Regions from separate parts of the Homo sapiens genome. Here regions 1 and 3 are each linked to region 2. Evidence: fine-mapped expression QTL. A gene starts in region 2. Each other region holds a variant in brackets. All regions are shown on one strand. Distances are between the middles of the regions. Region 1 overlaps LOC284600 (a long non-coding RNA gene). Region 2 holds the start of AGRN (agrin). Region 3 overlaps LINC01128 (long intergenic non-protein coding RNA 1128).

Region 1 (4,119 bases), 110 kb before region 2:
TGTGGGGCCTACAGTCCAGTTATGAAGGCAGGGTTCCTGTGTAAGCCAGCAGGCCCAGTTCTGGAAAGGCCAGGATGTGGGTTCAGAAGCTCAAGGACAATGGACTCATTCTGACTGGAGGGATCCAGGAAGGCTTCGTGGAGGAAGTGGCATTTGACATTGGCATCAAGGATGAACAGGAATAGAGAGAGGGGACTGGTGTCTGCGTGAAGGATCGCCAAAGCGCTGTTCTGGGGTGAGGGCGATCAGCCCCTCCTGCCCCTCCTGAACTATGAGGCTCGGGAGCCTTTGGCAGAAGGTGGCTCTGCACGCCCCAGGTGCAAGCTTGGAGCTTCCTTTTCTGCACTCCACAGCAGGAAGAAGGGCAGTGTGAACTGCTCACCACTGTCTTCCTGGGTTTGCAGCTCTGCGCCTGGCACAGAGACAGGCTCAGTGACGGTTGAAGGAATCGGAGAAATAATGAAAAGTGTGTTCATCCTGCAGGCAGCAGAGCCTCGGGTTAACCGTTAACGTCAGGAAATGACAGATCCAACGCTCCTGCTTGGGGCAGCGTGGAGGCCAGCGGAGGAACTGCAGGAGCCTAAAGGAGATGGCGCGCGGGCCTGGCTCAGGAGAGCAGCCGTCTGAAAGATGGCGGCGAAGGGTGCGGGAGGAGATGCCCCGGGCAGGGGCTTGGCGGGGTCTGGCACCAAACTTCCCAAAGCAGCTGCCTCTGTGAACTGTGCCTGGCAGGGAGGGAGCCACACCGGGAGTGACCCTAGACGCTGGCTCCCCAGGGGTGACTGGAGGCAGTGTCTCCCGCCCATGTGGGCCTCCGGCTTGGGGTCCCCAGAGCTCTGCCCTGCTGCTGGCTGCACTGAGAGAGGTGGCCTTCTGAATGGGCCCTGTCCCCGGGGAGCCTCTGGTAAAGAGATTCACCTGCACCCTCAAAACACGCCATGCCCATTGGAGGCTCTGGGTGCAGGCTGCCCCTCAAACAGAGAAAAACCACACGCTGTTTAAGACCCAAACCAAGGAGACAGCCCCTCATGCCCCCTTCTATCTCCCCTTCTGTCCAGGGCCCCCTGCCTGCTCTGGTCCACCCCGTCCTGACCCCCTCTGCCTGTTCATCTGAGGGCCGTGAGCCAAGGCCTGGGCCTGGCCAAGGGTCAGGGATCCTGGGACCTGCTTGAGACCATGCCCCATACACTCCTTCGGCCAGAAGGTCAGCCGTAGAGACAAACCCCCACCCTGAGCCCGCAGTGTCAGCAACGCCCTGTCCTCAGTGCCAGGCAGTGTCAGGCTGAGACCCGGGCCACCTGATCCAACGTCCACTCCAAGCAAGCCAGAGCCAGGTGCTGCCAGCCTGCCCATGTGCACACGTTAGCAGACAGGTTTCCTGGTGTGGCACACACGTGTTATGACCGCGGCTGCTGCCCCCAGCCCAGAGTGCACTTCCGGGTAATCCAGCACCCTGAGGCTTCACTGCTCTCCTGAGAGTTTTCTAAGATTAAATCTCCTTCACAATGACAGCCTCCTGTCACCTGGGCCCTGGTGACAAAGCCTTTGGAGAGGCAAGGACCCAGCCGGGGCATTCACAGTGGGCATGCTATCCACCCTCCGCCCCTGTCCTGGCCCCCACAGTGGAGCCGCCACCTTGGGTAACAGGGGCTGCCTGAGGTCCTGGAGAAGGAAGAACCAGGTGGCCCACCTTCGGTGCACAGGGAACAGCAGGGACCTGACGGCAGCCCCCGCACCCCTCCCTGGGCTGAAGTTCAGGCTGTCTCATCCCTTGCCAGGAGCTCAGGGCTGAGCTAGGTTGGCAGGGGATGGGTTGAGGGTCTGTTGTCCAGCAGATTGCCCGGGCCCCACCCAGGCCACTCAGAAAACACCTGTGAGAGCCCCGCAGGCATGCAGGGCACTGTCGTGAGCACACCAGTGGGGACAGACGTCCAGGCAGGAGGGAGCAGCCAGACCCCCATCCCGCCAGGGTCACCAGGTGAGCAAGGCTGGGGAACAATGGAGGCGGAGCCCCGC[G/GACTGCCCAGCTC]ACTGCCCAGCTCACTGCCCCCAGTGTCCAGGCTGTGGTGCAGGCGTGGGGACCCAGGTGTGTTCAGGGGTCTCCTTCAGGGAAGGAGACCAAGCTGGGAGTCTGGGGAGGCTGAGGTGTGAGGTGACAGCAGGTAAAGAGTGAGCCACAATCAGCATTTTCACATGAAAGGAAACTACAGGCCTGGGCGCAGTGGCTCACGCCTGTAATCCCGGCACTGTGGGAGGCTGAGGTGGGAGGATCACCTGAGGTCGGGAGTTCGAGACCAGCCTGACCAACATGGAGAAACCCCATTTCTACTAAAAAAAATACAAAATTAGCTGGGCATGGTGGCGCATGCCTGTAATCCTAGCTATTCGGGAGGCTGAGACAGGAGAATCACTTGAACCCGGGAGGCGGAGGTTATGGAGAGCCAAGATCGCACCACTGCACCCCAGCCTGGGCAACAAGAGTAAAACTCCGTCTCAAAAAAAAAAAAAAAAGAAGAAAGAAAAAGAAAAAAAGAAAGGCAACTACAGAAGGTGAGGAGAACCACCCGAGATCACCAGAGGGAACCGTGGAAGGTCCGTGGTCCACCAGCCAGGCTGGGGCACCTCAGCCCCTGGGCAGAGCACCAAGCAGGGCCGTGCCCTGGTAAAGGAGGGCACAGTCAGCCCCAGACTACAAGCTGCCTTGGTCCTCCCAGCAGGGCTTAAAAGCAAGACCCCAAAGGACCAAACAGCTTCCAAGTAACTTCCTGGAGTCCTGAGCAAAGTAAGCTTTTCTCAGCTTTGCTACAAAAATAGTCAGCACCCAGCAAAATTCACAATCCCTGTCACCCATTCAAAAATCACCAGGCATGCGAGGAAGCAGGAAAAGGAAAATGCACCCAGAAGAGAAGGAGCACCCATCAACGGGGCCGCCTCAGAAGCAACAGACGACCGGGCAAGTCCAAGGGCACCGAGGCACCTGCCACCACTGCGCCCAGCACTCCCGAAGCCAGAGGGCAGGTGGGACATAGGTGGGGACGTTCTGAGCAAAAACGCATGCGGCCAAGCTGGGGTCGCCCGTGGGAAGAGGGCGAAACGCTTGCACGTGGGTAGGGCAGTCTCTGCAAAGGGCTGTGTGGGCTCCGGGACCAGATGCTGTGAGGGCCTCACCAGCTGCGAGGTGGCAGGACCAGATGCTGTAAGGGCCTCACCAGCTGCAAGGTGGCTGTCTCTGCCCCACCCCACACGCTCAATGCATGTTAATTTCATCTTGTTTCATTCTCATTCCCATTTTACAGATTGAGGTTCAGAGAAGTCAGAAGCCTTCCCAAGGCTGCACAGCCAGAAGTGGGCACAGCGTCCTGGGGTGAGGGCTCACACCATCTGCGCCACCTGCCCTCCAGGTCCCACCATCCTCACAAATTCAAGGCAAGGTTCTGGAACCCCCAGCCCTCCAGAAAGGGGAAGCTGAGCCCAGGAAGCACATCTGAGAGTTCGGGTCCGTGAGTTTACCCTGCGCTCACGCCGATTCCTCCTGCATCCTCTGTCGGGATGTCTGGATTCCAGAGTCCCCACCCTGATTTTCCAACCTTGCCTCAGCCTTGGCTTCTCCCTTTTGGGGTGGGACAGGGAACCCCAGCAGCAGGTGTATGAGGGCATGAGAGGGCAGGAGGTGCCCTATGCCTACCCGCCAGACCAGGGCCCCAGCCCTGGACACAGGGAGAGAGCATGAGCGCTGTTCCTGCTCCCACTCCCTCATCTGAGCAGGTGCTCCCAGGTACAGGTGCCGAGTCCCACCCAGAGGGGCCCTGCCACAACCAGAGGACTGACAAACCCAGACACAACTGTCTCTTCCCCCTGGTCAGGGTCTGGGCAAGGGTCCCTCTGGGCTGCTGTCCATGCTGTGAGTGTCCGTGCTGTGGGCCACTGCCGTGGGTGTCCGTGCTGTGGCCTGCTGTCGTGGGTGTCCGTGCTGTGGCCCGGTATGTGAGGTTGTGTTTCCAACAGGGAGTAATTTGGCTTTGGTTACCTGAGGGTCTGAGGACAGGCACTAAAGCCCCACCTTTCTGGCTTCCAGAGTTGCCGGCTCCAGCAGCAGCCTCCAGGCCTGAGCAGGCTCTGGGGCTCCCACACC
Region 2 (4,119 bases):
AGATACAGAGTATCCACACAAAGGTTCTCCAAGGCCCCACCAGAGTAGCTAGATACAGAGTCCACTGGCACATTCACAAACCCTGAGCTAGACACAGGGCGCTGATTGGTGTATTTACAAACCTTGAGCTAGATACAGAGTGCCGATTGGTGTATTTACAATCCCTGAGCTAGACATAAATGTTCTCCAAGGTCTCACCAGAGTAGCTAGATACAGAGTGTCCACTGGCGCATTCACAAACCCTGAGCTAGACACAGGGTGCTGATTGGTGTATTTACAAACCTTGAGCTAGATACAGAGTGCCGATTGGTGTATTTACAATCCCTGAGCTAGACATAAAGGTTCTCCAAGGCCCCACCAGAGTAGCTAGATACAGAGTGTCTGTCTATTGGTGCATTCACAGACTCTGAGCTAGACACAGGGTGCTGATTGGTGTATTTACAATCCCTGAGCTAGACATAAAGGTTCTCCACGTCTCCACCACTCAGGAGCCCAGCTGGCTTCACCCAGTGGATCCCGCACTGGGGCTGCAAGTGGAGCTGCCTGCCAGTCCTGCGCTGTGCACCCGCACTCCTCAGCCCTTGGGTGGTCATGGGACTAGGCACGGTGGAGCAGGGGGCAGCGCTCATCGGGGAGGCTTGGGCCGCACAGGAGCCCACGGAGGGGGTGGGAGGCTCAGGCATGGTGGGCTGCAGGTCCCCAGCTCTGCCCCGCCGGAAGGCAGCTAAGGCCTGGCGAGTAATCGAGTGCAGCGCCAGTGGGCTGGCACTGCTGGGGGACCCACTACACCCTCCGCAGCCGCTGGCCCGGGTGCTAAGCCCCTCATTGCTCCGGGCCGGCAGGGCCGGCCGGCTGCTCCAAGTGCGGGGCCCACCAAGCCCACGCCCACTCGGAACTCCAGCTGGCCCGCAAGAGCCGCGCGCAGCCCCGGTTCCCGCTCATGCCTCTCCCTCCACACCTCCCTGCAAGCTGAGGGAGCCGGCTCCCGCCTTGGCCAGCCCAGAAAGGGGCTCCCACAGTGCAGCGGTGGGCTGAAGGGCTCCTCAAGTGCCACCAAAGTGGGAGCCCAGGCAGAGGAGGCGTGAAGACCGAGAGAGGGCTGTGAGGACTGCCAGCACGCTGTCACCTCTCAGCACCATCTCAGCTCACTGCAACCTCCGCCTCCTGGGTTCAAGCGATTCTCCTGCCTCAGCCTCCCAAGTAGCTAGGACTACAGGCGCCTGCCACCACACCGGCCAATTTTTGTATTTTTAGTAGAGACGGGGTTTCACCATGTTGGCCAGGCTGGTCTCGAACTCCTGACCTCCCGTGATCCACCTGCCTCAGCCTCCCAAAGTGCTGGGATTACAGGCGTGAGCCACTGCGCCCGGCCCATCCAGCTAATTTTTAATTTTTTTGAGAGATGGGGTCTTGCTATTTTGCCCAGGCTAGTCTCGAACACCCGGTGTCAAGAGATCTTGCTGCCTCCGCCTCCCAGAGTGCTGGGATGACAGGCGTGAGTCACCACGCCCAGCCTAGACACAGTTCTGAAGGGACAAAGGGGGCCTCCGCTCCCTCCTTTCAATCTTCAGCTAGGCCAGGCTCCCACTTGGGTCCTCCAGCCCTCAGTTTCCCCCTGCACCCAGCCAGGCCAAGCTGCAGAGGCGCCCGGCCCAGAGCTGGGAAGGGGCGTGGCGGGACCCGCGCTTGCAGCCGCGGGACGGAAGGGGGCGCGAACCTCCCCGCGGCGGGGCCTGGGGGGGCGGGGCCGGGAGGGGCGGGGCCGCGCCCCGTGCTGGCCAATCAGCGCCCGCCCCGGCACCGGGACCCGCCTCCGCGCCGCAGCTCCCGGGGGGTCCGGCCCGGCCGAGCCTCGGTGTCCGGCCCCGCGGGGGAGGGGCGCGGCCTGCGGAGCGGGATCGGGGCCGGGTCTGGGGCCCCTCCCGGCGGCCTTCGAGCCCTGCCGCCCGGCTCCGCGCCGCCCGGAGCCCCTCGGCAGTCCCGTCACGTCTCCTCCAGATTAGGCATTAACTCGGGTGCAGCCGCACTTCCGGGGGGCCGCGGCGGGGGAGGGGCGCCTGCGGGATCCAGACCCGCCCCCCACTCTCCTCTCCCCGCCCCCTCCCGGGCCGCCCCTTTCCCGCCCCACGGCCGCGCCGGGCGCTGCGTCCCGGGGCTTTGTTCGCGGCGGCGCGGGTCGCCGGCCTCCGGGCGGGCCGGGGGAGGGAGGAGGGAGGGGGCGGGAGGGGGAAGGAAGGAGGAGGGGGAGGAGGAGGGCGCGGGGAGGGGGTAGGGGGGCGGGGAGGAGAGAGGGGGAGGGGCGCCGCCCTGGCCCCGCCCCCCCCCGCCCGCCCGCCCGCGCTCCGCCGCCTCCGGAGCTGCGTCCCGTCCTGTCCAGTCCCGTCCCCGGCGCGGCCCGCGCGCTCCTCCGCCGCCTCTCGCCTGCGCCATGGCCGGCCGGTCCCACCCGGGCCCGCTGCGGCCGCTGCTGCCGCTCCTTGTGGTGGCCGCGTGCGTCCTGCCCGGAGCCGGCGGGACATGCCCGGAGCGCGCGCTGGAGCGGCGCGAGGAGGAGGCGAACGTGGTGCTCACCGGGACGGTGGAGGAGATCCTCAACGTGGACCCGGTGCAGCACACGTACTCCTGCAAGGTGCGCCCACCCGGACCCCGGCCTCCCCTCGCGACGCCTGCCGCCCCGCCGGGACCCCCGCCCCAGGCCGTGGGAACCAGCCCCGGTCGCTCCGCAGCCCCCGCTCCGGCTCCCTTGGCGACCGCCAAGCCCCGGGAGGGGGGGTCGCCGGGTCCCGGGAAACTCGCGGGCGCCGGGGAAAGTTGCTGCGCCGCCGCCGTCCTCCGCCCGCCGCCGCCTCCCTCCTCGCGGAGACAAGTGCACCTCGCCCACGGACTGCGGCTGCCGCGCGCCCTCCCTACCGGCCGAGAAGGAGAGGGGCCTGGGGAGGGGGGGCCTTTGCCCGGGCGGGGAGCGGGGGCTGGGCCTGGGATCCGCTTGTTCCCCTCCCCAGAGGCCTTTCCCGGGGCGAGAGGGGTTGGTCAGGAGAGAAAAAGGGGCGCACAGCCTGAGCTCCCAACCCCGGGAGCCAGGTGGGGGGTGCCGCAGTGGTGCGGGGGGGGGGCGTGCAGGAGCAGAGAGGTGGGCGGGGCCGTCACCGGGCCTCGTGTGCTTGGGGGCAGGGCCGGTGCCCCATCGCGCTCCTGCGGGAACCGGGGCTCCCCACCCCGGGGAGGGGAAGTTTCCCTGGTTTCTCCTTCAGGTGCTTCTGGGAGCCCCCGGGGTAGGTACGCTGGGACCCCCACCATCTTCTCCTAGTAGGGGCTCGGGGGACCCAGAGCCGGCGCCCGTGTACCCCCAAAACCATCTCCTGGGACCAGAAATCCACTCATTTCCCTCCACGGAGGTGGAGAAGGTGGCAGCTTCTTTCAGACTGGCCGGTGCGGGCTACAGCTGGGCTCCCCCGCCGGCCCAGTCTCCTCCACAGCGGCCAGGGCACTTTGCCAGGCCCCTGCAGGATTTTCCCGACTTCCTCCCCGCTGCTCCTGGGTGTGGCTGGGGTGGGGGAAGGCGATGAAAGCCACCAGGCCCTCCCCCTGCCTGGGTCATCTGCCTCCTGGAGCCTACTGTTGGGGGGCGTGGAAGAGGCTCTGCCTGCGCAACTGGAGGGGGTCCCTGCGGATGCCGCAGTCCTGAGGCTCCCAGCAGGGGCTGCGCAGTGGACAGGCCAACCATTGTCTCTCCCCCCATCCGGCAGCCCCAGCCCCCCAGATCTGAGGAAGGGGCTGCTTCTCCCGGCTTTGTTCTCAGGGGAGTGCGTGAGTGCGTGGGTCCCTGTCCCCGTGAGGGCCGCCAGGTCGGCTGTAGCCTTTACCACAGGCCACCGTCAGAGCAGCTGCCCTCAGGGCCCCAGGAGCTGAGAAGGTGGAGGGTGGGGCACCCTGCACTGCCCAAACTTGATTTCGTGGTTCACAGGCTGCCCTGAGTGCACAGACTGTAGAAGCCCGAGGAAGGGGCGTCTCAGCCCAGCCACAGGGCCAAGCTGGCCCCTTACCCCAACGCCCCATCCCCCTCCTCCACTGCCCAAGCTTGCTGGGAGGTGGGCCCTGAGCACTGGGCAGGTGGGGAGA
Region 3 (4,119 bases), 160 kb before region 2:
TGTCCCCCAGGCTGGAGTGCAGTGCTGTGATCTCAGCTCACTGCAATCTCCACCTCCCGGGTTCTAGCTATTCTCCTGCCTCAGCCACCTGAGTAGGTGGGATTACAGGCGTGCGCCACCATGCCCGTCTAATTTTTGTATTTTCAGTAGAGACGCGGTTTCGCCATCTTGGCCAGGCTGGTCTTGGAACTCCTGACCTCAAGTGATCTGCCCGCCTCGGCCTCCCAAAGTGCTGGGATTACAGGCATGAGCCACTGTGCCCTGCCTAGCTCACTATCTTTCAATCAGTAGAGATTCTTTAGTTATTTTTTAACTCCATGGATCCCAAGCTTTGATTTTTGTTTTCCAAACAAATTGCATTTATAAATAATAATTTTTATTTATAATCAACAGACATCTAGGCTTGCTGTCAAGGCTTCTGATCAACATGAGATGACCGCCGTGTGGTAAACTGATGAACCCTGACCCTGATCAACATGAGATGACCGCCGTGTGGTAAACTGATGAACCCCGACCCTGATGAACGTGAGATGACCGCCGTGTGGTAAACTGATGAACCCCGACCCTGATGAACGTGAGATGACCGCCGTGTGGTAAACTGATGAACCCCGACCCTGATGAACGTGAGATGACCGCCGTGTGGTAAACTGATGAACCCCGACCCTGATGAACGTGAGATGACCGCCGTGTGGTAAACTGATGAACCCCGACCCTGATCAACGTGAGATGACCGCCGTGTGGTAAACTGATGAACCCCGACCCTGATGAACATGAGATGACCGCCGTGTGGTAAACTGATGAACCCCGACCCTGATCAACATGAGATGACCGCCGTGTGGTAAACTGATGAACCCCGACCCTGATCAACATGAGATGACTGCCGTGTGGTAAACTGATGAACCCTGACCCATTAGGCTTTGGCTACAGAATGTGGAAATAAGTTGTGTTACTACATGTGTGTAATCCTAGGGTGCAGGACACCGGCCGGGAGGTTCCATAGAGTGATGGGTTCTGCAGGTAACTCATCCTCTAGTCCTCTGTAAGCTCCTAGAAGGAAGAAATTATGTCCTTTAGACTAATAAAATTCCTCCAAACCAAATACAGCACCTACTGTGAAGACACAAAGATACTTTTAGAATAGTAAAAACTTTATCCATTGAGAAATTCCTTAATGAAACAGTATCCAAGAAGTCATTTGCCAGCAGATTTCTTAGAGGTGCGATAAAGAAGAGGACATTGCCAGTCGTCACAGCAGCTGCAATAGCTCCTCTCTATTGTTAAACAGTGGGATATCTTGTGCAGGTTTTCAGTTGACAATCAATTTTAAAGATTAGTTTCGGTCCCCATCAATCAATTATTTATTAACCCATCAATAAAAATTTAAATGCTCTGTGAGGTACAATAGCTATTAAAAGAGACAGAGGCACTTTCTGTGTCCAGAGGGGCTTTTAGTCTGCTCTGGAAAGCAAGATGCGTGCAGATGAGTGACGCAGTGCATCGTGTGGATGCAAAGGGAGGGACTCACATGGGAACCAGAGGAGCTACGAAGGGAGGCAGTGGGGACTGGTGGGTCGAGACCTGGAAATAACACATGAATAGGCAACAAAGGTTTCCTTTCCTCTTCCATGCACTTCAGTCCTTGAAAAACGTCTTACCACGGAATTCCACAGCGTACCAAGCGATTCCACAGCTTGATGGCACACTCTCCTTTCTCAGCATTCTTGAAAATGGCGTGTGAGCCAAGCCATCTTACTGAGAAATTACCTTAAACCATTTGATGAACCAAAAATATTTTGTAATACCCATCTCCGACATTAGGTAGGCAAATCACACAGAAACACCGAGGTCTTCTGAGTCATATTTATCTGAAAAATCACAGCTTGGGTGCATGTGAAGCCAGAGGAGCACTCCTGGGGCCTGCGGTGCCATCACTCAGCTCCCCTGGGCTTCACATGGCCATGGAGCACCCAGCAAGTGTAGGCTCTGAGCCTTCAGGGAGGGGCGGCATCAGCCAGCACCATCGTCTCCTGGGTCTTGTGCCTCTTCCTTGGTTGCGGTGTTGTCAGGGCCAGAATTGGGCAATTCCG[G/A]GTGACATCCAGGTGTGGCTGCTGACACGGAGCACAGGTGAGGTTCACTGAGGTAAGTGGGCCATGGCCTTGGGCTTCTAGTTCAGAGCACACCATCCACTCAGCATGTGAACCCAGCTCCAAAGCGTATGTGTGCATGTGTGTACCTGTGCACATTGCGCATGTCTCTGTGTATGCATGTGCTTTGATGCATGTTGATGTACGGGTGTATCTGTGTATTGTGTATGCACACACGAGCATATGTGTACATGAATTTGTATTGCACATGTGTTTAATGCGAACACGTGTCATGTGTATGTGTTCACATGCATGTGTGTCTGTGTACTGTGTGCAACAGTGTGTGCAAGTGTGTATATGTGGGTTTATGTTTGTACAGTGTGTGTAGTGTGTGTACACATATACACCTGTGTGCATGTGTACATGGTATTTAAGCATGTTTGCACGTGTGTTTGTGCTTGCATGTGCTGCGTGTTTGTGTTGGTGGGATGTGGGGAGGCTGCTGTGGAGACAAAAGCTGGAGAGAACTTGGTAGAGTAACCCAGGTCAGGAAATGGCACCTGCAAAGGAAGGCTGGAGTGCCTGGGATTCACGTTGAAATGGCCAATCCGTCAGCTGGGCTGGACACAGCCATCACGCTGGGCAGCTGTGAGGTTAAAACAGAAAGTCTGGGCTGTGGGGAGGCTGAGAATTGAGATGCATGTATGAGATGAGTCACGAGGGCCAAGTGGTGTGTGTGAGAAAGCAGGCACAGCACCACTAAACACTAAGGAGATTTCAGGGGAGTTACGGGTGGAGGGAGGACATCAGATCTACCCTGGAAGTTAAACGTGTTTCGAGTGCATTAAATACTATGGGCCACAGACGCCTTGTCTCCATATCTACTCTTTTATAAATGAAGTAAAGTTCTTGGGAAATACTTTTCTCACTCTAAAGCTCACAATCTATCTTGCAAAAAATATTTTAAATTCCATCTCAAATAAGCCAGGGTGAAAAGGGAGCCTGTGCACCAGACACTGCCAGCCTTGCCTGGCTCTCGCCTTCTTGCTCTTCCTTCCCCACCTGCTGGGGATTTTCTTAACGATGGAGATGGGTTTGGGTTTGTCCTGCTGTGCTCTGCTCCCCATTCCCGGATCCAAGGTCCTGCCTCTGTCCTGTCCCCTGAGCCACCTCAGGGATGCAGGGTCCCCCACCTGGTCAAGTGCCCAGTGCTGTGTTGTCATTTGCAAGTTCTTCCTGTGACTGAACTCCAAATGGCACTGGGACTGCTGACTCCACCCACTGGACAACCCGTGTTCTTGCTTTTGGGGTTTCTGAAACAGCCCCAAGACTCTGGGCATCTTGATTTTGCTCCCATTGCTTCTCAGGACACCCTGCTCCTGTGGTTTGCAGCCCCGGCCTTCTCTTCGAGGACGCCTCTGCTCTTCTGCCTCACACTCGGATTGGACCTTCTTCAGCACAGCCAGTGGCCGAGGCTTCCTCCCTGGGGCTCAGTGGAGCAGGACAGATGCTGCATCCAAACTCTTCCATTGGGTTCCAGTCTGTTCCAGTCATGCCCTTGAGCCTCTAAAGCTCCTAGGTGAGAGACGTAGCAGCTGACAGCACTTCCCACTTGATTTGGGTGGACTCCAGCCTCCCCAGCAACAATAAGAGATCAAAAGCATCGTTGAGGAAGCAGCTTGCTGAAACGCTGAGTGCCCGCCACTCTCAGGTCAGGTGGGACCGGCAGGCCAGCATGAGTTCCTGAACACTTGGTTCTCAATACTGGCCACAGCCACACTGTAAGGGGAAACAAGAGGGCACTGTATGCAAACATCTCTTGAACTCTGGAGTCTGCTCACCTTCCTGCCTCAAGCCCCTCTCCCACGTGGTCCAGTCACCATTCTCCACAGAGACTACCCTAAAACCCAGCGACTCTCGTGTGCCTGCAGAATGGCACAGCCCGTTCTCATAGCAGCACTCCTGTTTAATCAGAGGGATGTTAACGACCAAGTCATATTTGCTCGATTTGTGTTCAACATATTTCATTTGTACC

What was found. PIP is the estimated chance that this variant, and not a neighbour inherited with it, causes the effect. A credible set is the group of variants that fine-mapping cannot tell apart.
Region 1: its variant is the best candidate, but not a certain one, in a credible set for the expression of AGRN in sigmoid colon (GTEx, PIP 0.74).
Region 3: its variant is the best candidate, but not a certain one, in a credible set for the expression of AGRN in whole blood (TOPMed, PIP 0.70).

What each region holds. Positions count from the first base shown.
Region 1 is chr1:912,467-916,585 of GRCh38, forward strand. LOC284600 (a long non-coding RNA gene) reads left to right here. Exons shown (of 5, transcript XR_007065342.1): 2 at 1-3,005; 3 at 3,284-3,483. Among named protein-coding and RNA genes, the nearest start is that of LINC02593, 5.2 kb to the right of the region's middle. RefSeq lists enhancers at 224-724, 725-1,225. The variant G/GACTGCCCAGCTC (reference allele first, on the strand shown) is at 2,017.
Region 2 is chr1:1,017,745-1,021,863 of GRCh38, forward strand. AGRN (agrin) reads left to right here and starts at 2,376. Exons shown (of 36, transcript NM_198576.4): 1 at 2,376-2,629. The coding sequence starts at 2,429. RefSeq lists a silencer at 1,690-2,139 and an enhancer at 3,648-4,119.
Region 3 is chr1:852,998-857,116 of GRCh38, forward strand. It overlaps LINC01128 (long intergenic non-protein coding RNA 1128), which reads left to right. Exons shown (of 4, transcript NR_047524.1): 4 at 394-4,119. Among named protein-coding and RNA genes, the nearest start is that of FAM41C, 22 kb to the right of the region's middle. The variant G/A (reference allele first, on the strand shown) is at 2,088.